Regions from separate parts of the Homo sapiens genome. Here region 1 is linked to region 2. Evidence: fine-mapped expression QTL. A gene starts in region 2. The other region holds a variant in brackets. All regions are shown on one strand. Distances are between the middles of the regions.

Region 1 (4,222 bases), 28 kb after region 2:
CATGAACCTGTGGCATGCACACACACGGAGGGGTGTTGGGATGGGTTGGGTTCACATGGAATTGAGTTTGAGCTGTAAGTGGTAGGGGATGAGGGGCATGTGAGTTTGTGACTGGCTAAAGCAGGAATATTTAGATTCTATGAGCACGGGTATGTGTGTGTGATGGTATACGTGCATAAGAAGCCGTTTCTGGGTAACTAGGGCCTGCACTCTGCTATACGTGTGGCTGGGTGGGTCTGGCCAGTCCCATGGCACTGAGAGTGTGGTGAGTGTGCTCAGGCAGAACGGGTGCTGCCTGCCTACCACATCCGTGGGAGCTGGCCAGGGTGGGGGCAGGGCTGGTGGGCAGGGCTGCCCTAGGACGGGCGTTTCCAGTTCCTGGAACTGCTTCCTTGTGTGGAACCTTTCCCCATACCTCCTAGCTGGGCCCTTGGGAGAGGGGAGGAGGCCGTGGGTCCTTCAAGGGGGTGCTCGCAGGCCAGACACAAGGGAGCTAGGCCTGGGGAACAGAAAGCCACAGCGTGAGTCTTTCAAGCACTTCTGAAGGGTGACATGTGTGAGTTTGTCACACCAGGCCCTCAGTGCGGTCAGGGAGTCTGTACTTCCTGGATGGCGGAACCTGTCTGTCAAGCCCTGCTTCCTCCCCAGCAAGGGGTTGGGGGGAGGGCCTGATGGCAGGAGATGGGCCCCTGGGGCTTTGAGACATGGTGAGGAGAAAAGGGGCAAGTGGGAAGACCCTTTTCCTTCTGTATTTCTCTTTTTTTTTTTTTTTTTTTGAGACATAGAGTCTCACTCTGTCACTCAGGCTGAAGTGCAGTGGCACAGTCTTGGCTCACTGCAAACTCCGTGTCCTGGGTTTAAGCAATTCTGCCTTAGCCTCCCGTGTAGCTGGGATTACATGCTTGCGCCACCACGTCCAGCTAATTTTTTTTTTATTTTTAGTAGAGATAGGGTTTCACCATGTTGGTCTGGCTGGTCTCGAACTCCTGATCTCCAGTGATCTGCTTGCCTTGATCTCCCAAAGTGCTGGGATTACAGGCGTGAGCCACCACACCTGGTCTTGTACCTCTCTGTTCTATGCCTGAACTTCCACCACTGATCACTTGCCATCATCCCAGCAAGTCACACTGAGCCTGTGAAACCACAGGGCACTGGAAACCACACGTTAGGGGAAGTGGGAGAGTTGGCGGGGCTCTCAGATGAACTCCAACCCCTTGTTTCTCGCCTGGGGAAAGTGAGGCCCACAAAAATAGAGGGACTTGGCTCAAGAACATGCAGTGAATCTGTGGCAGAGCCAGGCCCTGGCCCTCTCTTAGGGAGGGGTGCAAGGGGAAAGGAAAAGGAAGACTGGGTCCTGGCCCCTGGCTTGCTCACCCAGGCTGCATCTCCCCCTGCAGGTGATCGAGGAGTTCTACAACCAGACATGGGTCCACCGCTATGGGGAGAGCATCCTGCCCACCACGCTCACCACGCTCTGGTCCCTCTCAGTGGCCATCTTTTCTGTTGGGGGCATGATTGGCTCCTTCTCTGTGGGCCTTTTCGTTAACCGCTTTGGCCGGTAAGTAGGAGAGGTCCTGGCACTGCCCTTGGAGGGCCCATGCCCTCCTGCCCAGGGAGTCCCAGATGGGGTGGGAGGTAGGGGAGACTTATCTGCCTGTTCCAGGGTATTACCTCTGACCCAGCCCCTCGGAGCCCAAGGAATGTGGGCACTGGCCTGACCTGTGACCCCGTCCCCAGGCGGAATTCAATGCTGATGATGAACCTGCTGGCCTTCGTGTCCGCCGTGCTCATGGGCTTCTCGAAACTGGGCAAGTCCTTTGAGATGCTGATCCTGGGCCGCTTCATCATCGGTGTGTACTG[C/T]GGCCTGACCACAGGCTTCGTGCCCATGTATGTGGGTGAAGTGTCACCCACAGCCCTTCGTGGGGCCCTGGGCACCCTGCACCAGCTGGGCATCGTCGTCGGCATCCTCATCGCCCAGGTAAGCTGGGGCAGGATCTACCTGCCTGGCACGGCCCCTGCCCACAGCTTCAGTGGCTCTCGGATCTGTGCCCAGCAGGGCAGAGTTTCTCTTCCGCCCAGCCCCCACAGCCTTGCAGAGGACAACTATGGTACACAGGTCCAGAGAACACAGCACCATGGCCTCCCAGTTGACAGCAAGATGACTTGACTCTTCTCAGTCCCTTTCTTCTCACTCTAGGCTTCCAACCACAGGGCCCGCCTTCCCCCAACATGCCGCAGGCTGTTATGCACAGTACCCTCTCTCCAGGAGGCTTCCCCTTCCCTGTCCCCAAAACCCTCTTGTGGCAGAGTAGCAGCCCCCATTCTCTGTGCTGGACACATCTGTGGCCTTGTCATTTGTCCTCCCAGCAACACTGTGGGGTAGGTCCTACTTTTCCCATGTGACCGATGAGGAAACTGAGAAACAGGGCTCATGCTAGTGGCAGAGCCTCTAGAACTGGGGCCCTTCCCTGAAGCAGCAGCTGACACAAAGTAGGGAAGGCCACTCTGGCAGGACGGGGTGGGAAAGGGGGTCAGGGCAGAGGCGCTCACGGCCCCTGCTTCCCCCAGGTGTTCGGCCTGGACTCCATCATGGGCAACAAGGACCTGTGGCCCCTGCTGCTGAGCATCATCTTCATCCCGGCCCTGCTGCAGTGCATCGTGCTGCCCTTCTGCCCCGAGAGTCCCCGCTTCCTGCTCATCAACCGCAACGAGGAGAACCGGGCCAAGAGTGGTACGGGCATGGCCCTGCCCTCCTCCCCACTCCCTGAGCCCTGGCCTTCTTCCCACTCTGAGCCACCCTCACCTTCCCTCCGGTCCCCCCAGTGCTAAAGAAGCTGCGCGGGACAGCTGACGTGACCCATGACCTGCAGGAGATGAAGGAAGAGAGTCGGCAGATGATGCGGGAGAAGAAGGTCACCATCCTGGAGCTGTTCCGCTCCCCCGCCTACCGCCAGCCCATCCTCATCGCTGTGGTGCTGCAGCTGTCCCAGCAGCTGTCTGGCATCAACGCTGTGAGTGCCCCCACCCACCCTTCCTGTGCCCCAGCCAAGCCCTCTGGTCAAGTGTGCATGGTGAACAAGTCCCAAACTTGAAACAACAGATACGCCTCTGCCGAAGAAGTTTCCCTTTAGACCCCAAGCCCGTAAGGTCACTGCAGTGCAGTGTCCCTTCTGCCTGAGTATTTGTCCCCTTCATTCTTTACTCATCCTGGGTCCCACATCCACTGCTACAGAGGCAGGGAAGGGCCACAATGTCCAGGTAGGCCCCAACAGTTTCTCTTGTCTGGCAGGTCTTCTATTACTCCACGAGCATCTTCGAGAAGGCGGGGGTGCAGCAGCCTGTGTATGCCACCATTGGCTCCGGTATCGTCAACACGGCCTTCACTGTCGTGTCGGTGAGTCTTTGCTTACTGGCCCCCCCAGCCAAACCCCAGGGAGGAGGCAGTGCCATCTTCCCCACTGGTCTTTGCAGTGCCCTGTGACTTTCTCAGCTCTTGAGGCAAGGCCTCTGGGTGGGTGGGTTCAGAAGGGCACTAGGCAGGGGTGGCACTGACACTGTCTCTGCCCACAGCTGTTTGTGGTGGAGCGAGCAGGCCGGCGGACCCTGCACCTCATAGGCCTCGCTGGCATGGCGGGTTGTGCCATACTCATGACCATCGCGCTAGCACTGCTGGTGAGTTGCTAGGTTCTGGAGAGTGAGGGATGCGGGAGAGTTTGCCTGGGCTTCATATCCCAAAATGCCTGTCTCAGCCCCAGGCTGGCAGGCCTTTTGGTGGCTGCATTCTCCCTGGCTGTGGGTCTGACTTTCTGGCTCCTGAAGTTGTCTCCTTCCAAACCACACACATCCTCTCTTGAACTTGCTCCTCCCTGCTTGATGGATTCTCAGCGCAGCACCTCTGGTCCCAGACCCCAAACTCTCACCTCCTTAAGGAATTGCTTTGCCTAATATTAACCCTTTCCAATCTTCATCTGTAGCCTCAATTCATCTTCACAGCAACCCCGGGAAGTAGTGCTGTCCTCCCCATAGAGGCGCAGAAACATGCCTTGCCTCATTCAGTTCACACGACTGGAGGTGTAGTTCAGTTCTTCCCATTTTATGGGGGAGGAAGCTTAAGTCCCAGTGAGGTTAGTAACTTGTCAGATAAAGGATGAAGCCAGGAATCAACCTCAGTCCCAGGCCTGTGACTGTGACCGCTGTGCTAACCCTGTGCCTGGCACTCACA
Region 2 (4,500 bases):
AGGAAAGACTGGAAGTATCAGCAGGACGGACTGGAGGGGAAGGAACATTCAACACAGGTAGATTAGCTGCTCACTCATTCGTGCATTCCTTCCCTCCTTCAGTCATTCACCCACGTGCCTCAGCTGCAGAACCTGTCCTCAAGGTGCTCACAGGCTGAGGGAAGGCAGACAGAGGACAAGTGGCAACCTACAAAACACCAAATGGTAAAGGAGAGAAAGATTTCCACTTGGGAGAACCAGGGACACTTCCCGGAGGAGGAAGGACCCATGGTGCTTTTTGGCATGGTGAGGTCGGGGAGGGCTTCCCAGGCAGAGGAGACAAGCTGAGCAAATGTGTGGATGTGAGTTGCTGGTGTGAGGGGCGAGGCTGAGCGTGTAAACTGGTGCCATGAAGAAGGACCGTGATGGCCAGGCTTGGCCCTTACTCCCTCCATGACAATTTCAGACAGATGAGCAGGAGAGTGGCAGGGTGCAGGACTGGAGGACAAAAGACCAGAGGAGATGGAGGCCCTGCAGACAGCAGGGGAGGGAAGGAGGATGAGGTGGTGTAGACAGCGGAGTCAGCAGGACTTGGTCTGTCCAGGGGTGAGGAGAGAGGTGGCCCAAGCTTTCCAGGCTGAGCATAGAGAGACCACAGGAATTGAAGCCTTGGGCAGGGGGGTGCCCAGAATGCACCTGCCTTCTGTTTCAGGGCTCCATACTCAACCAAGGTGCCCCTCAGCCAGAACTGGACACATTGCCAGAGAACTCCAGGGGTCATCTGGTCGGCTCAGCCTCCCGGTTTCCGACAGACAGTAAGCCCACCATGACTCCCTCCATCGGGAAAGGGACCCTCAAGACTTTGATCAGACCTTTGGACTGGGGGTCCTTCCCTTCACTGTGTCTCAAGTAAGGCACTGGTCTAGAGGAAATAAGGTGAAGTCAGATGATAGCAATACCACTACCAGTGCAGTGGCACATGCCTGCACTCCCAGCTACTACGGAGGCTAAGGTGGGAGGATCACTTGAGCCCAGGAGTTTGAGACCAGCATTTATTTATTTACTAACAGACTAAATAAATAAACCAACAATACCACCAACCAGTAAATGAGAACTTCCATGCTAAACACTTCATGAGCTTATCTGGAAATTGCACCTCTCCTGATAGCAATGAGATTGGTGTGGGAATTCCATTTACTCATAAGAAGACAGCCTCGGCCGGGCTCAGTGGCTCACGCCTGTAATCCCAGTACTTTGGGAGGCGAGGTGGGTGGATCACGAGGTCAAGAGTTCAAGACCAGCCTGGCCAAAATGGTGAAACCCCGTCTCTACTAAAAATAAAAATAATTAGCCAGGGGTGATAGCGGGCGCCTGTAATCCCAGCTACTCGGGAGGCTGAGGCAGAGAACTGCTTGAATCCGGGAGGCGGAGGTTACAGTGAGCCGAGATCGTGCCGCTGCACTCCAGCCTGGGCGACAGAGCGAGACTCTGTCTGAGAAAAAAAAAAATTAAAGAAAAAAACGAAAACAGCCTCACTGGCCAGGAACTCGCCCAGGATCGCGGCCGGGCCAGTATACAGTTGAGCTGGTTCAAACCCGAGGTCTATCATGTCCTTAATGTCCTATCATGTCAGTCAGTTAGCCTGCCTTTCATATTTTCCACACTTACAGGTCACCATAGACTCACCTGAACTGTGAGAAGTAGAGGAAGGCGTCCCAGAGGAGGTGATTTTAAAGCCCAGGTTTGAGATGGGTATGCATTTCCAGGCAAGAGAGCCCGGCCGGTGCAAAAGCAAGGCTTGGCTCACAAACGGGAATGTGGGGGGTGGAGACAGGGAAGGGAGAAGTCAATCCCTGGGCAAGACCTCCTGGAGTCTCTCTAACAAATAAATACTACTTTCCATGCAGTAGACGCTGTTCTAAACACTTTACAAATATTAACTCACTTGGTCTTTCTACAACCCTACGAGGTGGTACTGTTACTATCCCTAGTGCACCGAAGTCACCCAGCGGCCGAGTGAGAACTCCAGTCCAGCTTTCCACCCGCTACTCCGCGCATCCCAGCTTGCCTTACAGCCGGGTACCGGCTCCACCATTTTGCTAGAGAAGGCCGCGGAGGCTCAGAGAGGTGCGCACACTTGCCCTGAGTCACACAGCGAATGCCCTCCGCGGTCCCAACGCAGAGAGAACGAGCCGATCGGCAGCCTGAGCGAGGCAGTGGTTAGGGGGGGCCCCGGCCCCGGCCACTCCCCTCACCCCCTCCCCGCAGAGCGCCGCCCAGGACAGGCTGGGCCCCAGGCCCCGCCCCGAGGTCCTGCCCACACACCCCTGACACACCGGCGTCGCCAGCCAATGGCCGGGGTCCTATAAACGCTACGGTCCGCGCGCTCTCTGGCAAGAGGCAAGAGGTAGCAACAGCGAGCGTGCCGGTCGCTAGTCGCGGGTCCCCGAGTGAGCACGCCAGGGAGCAGGAGACCAAACGACGGGGGTCGGAGTCAGAGTCGCAGTGGGAGTCCCCGGACCGGAGCACGAGCCTGAGCGGGAGAGCGCCGCTCGCACGCCCGTCGCCACCCGCGTACCCGGCGCAGCCAGAGCCACCAGCGCAGCGCTGCCATGGAGCCCAGCAGCAAGGTGAGTCGCGCGCCCGCGGGCCCTCCCGCCAGGAACAAAGGCGCAGACTCCTGCCCGCCTTACGCCGGCCAGGGCCTCCCCCGCCGCCCCGCTGCGCTGTGCGCCCGGGGCGGGCCGCGCGCCTCTCCGAGCCTGGCTCGGTGCGGGTCCCGAGCGCAGCGCCCCGCCGGGCCGCTGGCCGCAGTGGGGATGGGCTTCGGATCTAGCGGGCCGGAGGGCGCCGCGTGCGTAGTTGGCGCCGGCACTGAGCACATGGCCTCCTTCCGGGGGCGCCGCGCCGTCCACGCGGCCCTGCTGGGGCTGGGGACACAGGGCCCGGGAGCGGCACGTCGCACACGACCTCGGCAGCAGCAGCCCAGCCTCGGCCCCTCCCGGTGCGGGGGAGGGGGCCCGAGCGCGGCGCCCATTGGCTGAGCGGGCCGAGCCCCCGGCCCGGCCCCGGCCCCGGCGCGCGGAGGAGTCAGGAGCCGCCCCCGCTCTCCGTCTGCTCCCCTAGCCCGGACGCCCCTGTAGGTGGGCGGCCTGGTGCGAGGTGTCCCACCGGCCTCCCCTACTCCTCCCGCCAGTCCCCCGCGGTGACGAGGCCGAGGCCGAGGGGAGGGCACTTTTCTCCAGGCCCGGGCTCGAACGCGGGGGTTGAGATGAACCTCCGGTCTCGGAGGCTCTCCTTTGCGAGGAGTGCAGGCCCCAAAGCTTTGGCCCAGTCTCGCGGAGATGTGTTCCGCGGAGGCAGGTTTACCCTCGGGGCCAGGCGGGGAGCGCAACCGGAGGGGCGGGGGATCTGGGGGCCAGGAAAGAGCCCCAGGCTGAAGTCTAGCGGGAAGCGCGCACGCCACGGGGTTGGGGAATGAGGGATGGGGACTCTGGGGACCAACAACTCCCTAGATAGGATTTCTTTTTTTCTGTGTAAGTGGGCTTGTCCTGCAGGGCATCTTTGTAGCGTCCGCAGAGCGATTTCTTTTCAACAAATTGTTTGTGGAGCCCCTCCTGTGTGTAGGGCATTGTTTCTTTCCACCTCCTTTCCTCCCCCTAGTCTACAATATTTTCAAGTCCCCTTTTTCTTTTGAAACGGTCCCTCTTTATCTATTATACTTTGATTTTTCCATCTCGTCAGCTGGGAGGGCACCTGGATGGCCCTTGTTTTCTTAGCTGGGACGCGGGGGTAGCACTGAATTTTGAACTGCCCTTCCTACTGGCTGTGGAGGTGTCCCGCTGAGACTGAGCGGGGTGGCGCTGGGCCGCACCCTCGGCAGGAAAAGGCCTTCCGCCCCACACCTGTTGAATCCATAAATCCAGACGACTTGGTTCACCCTTCCTGGGCCCTCGCTTGAGGTGAGACCCCGGGGAAGTTCCCGGGGAAGGCTCCCAGGATCTTAGGTGAGCCGTAAGGGTGGGATATAACTAAACAAAAGTTCAGTGAGAAGCTCTTCTAGCTAGTGGCAAGGAAGTCCAAATATCTCAGGGCTCTTGCAGGCCACTTAACTTCTGGGCCTCAGTTTTTCCATCTGAAAGAGATCACTTTTGTCACTTCCTCTAGGGAAGGAACTATCTATTCAGCATACTATGCCAGACATGGGTATTTATTTGTTGAGTGGATAAGGGAATACTACGTGGAGACAGAAAAGTGGAGGAGAAAATCAGCAGGTTCTTAGCCAAACTACTTTAAGCGTCACGGACCTTATAGCCCTGCTGGTTACTCACTAGCCTGGAGCTCAGAGAAGGGAAATAAGTTTGCCAAAGTCACACAGCTAGTAAGTGGTTGAACTGGATTTGAACCCAGGCCCATCAGATTTAATTTCATTTCTGTCTCCACTGTCTCTCTTCACCACAACATTTCTTGAATTTTGGGCAGAAGGGAGAGAGTTTGCCTATCTTCAAAGGTGGCCCCTTG

Evidence for each region. PIP is the estimated chance that this variant, and not a neighbour inherited with it, causes the effect.
Region 1: its variant is the best candidate, but not a certain one, in a credible set for the expression of SLC2A1 in whole blood (INTERVAL, PIP 0.66).

The regions. Positions count from the first base shown.
Region 1 is chr1:42,928,382-42,932,603 of GRCh38, reverse strand. SLC2A1 (solute carrier family 2 member 1) reads left to right here. Exons shown (of 10, transcript NM_006516.4): 3 at 1,398-1,558; 4 at 1,738-1,978; 5 at 2,569-2,731; 6 at 2,824-3,011; 7 at 3,290-3,394; 8 at 3,571-3,672. Among named protein-coding and RNA genes, the nearest start is that of SLC2A1, 28 kb to the left of the region's middle. RefSeq lists enhancers at 296-465, 2,736-3,376, 3,377-4,019. The variant C/T (reference allele first, on the strand shown) is at 1,861.
Region 2 is chr1:42,956,743-42,961,242 of GRCh38, reverse strand. It overlaps SLC2A1 (solute carrier family 2 member 1), which reads left to right and starts at 2,375. Exons shown (of 10, transcript NM_006516.4): 1 at 2,375-2,609. The coding sequence starts at 2,592. It overlaps SLC2A1-DT (SLC2A1 divergent transcript), which reads right to left and starts at 2,194. Exons shown (of 4, transcript NR_033967.1): 1 at 1,666-2,194. RefSeq lists silencers at 2,019-2,202, 2,075-2,484, 2,615-3,254.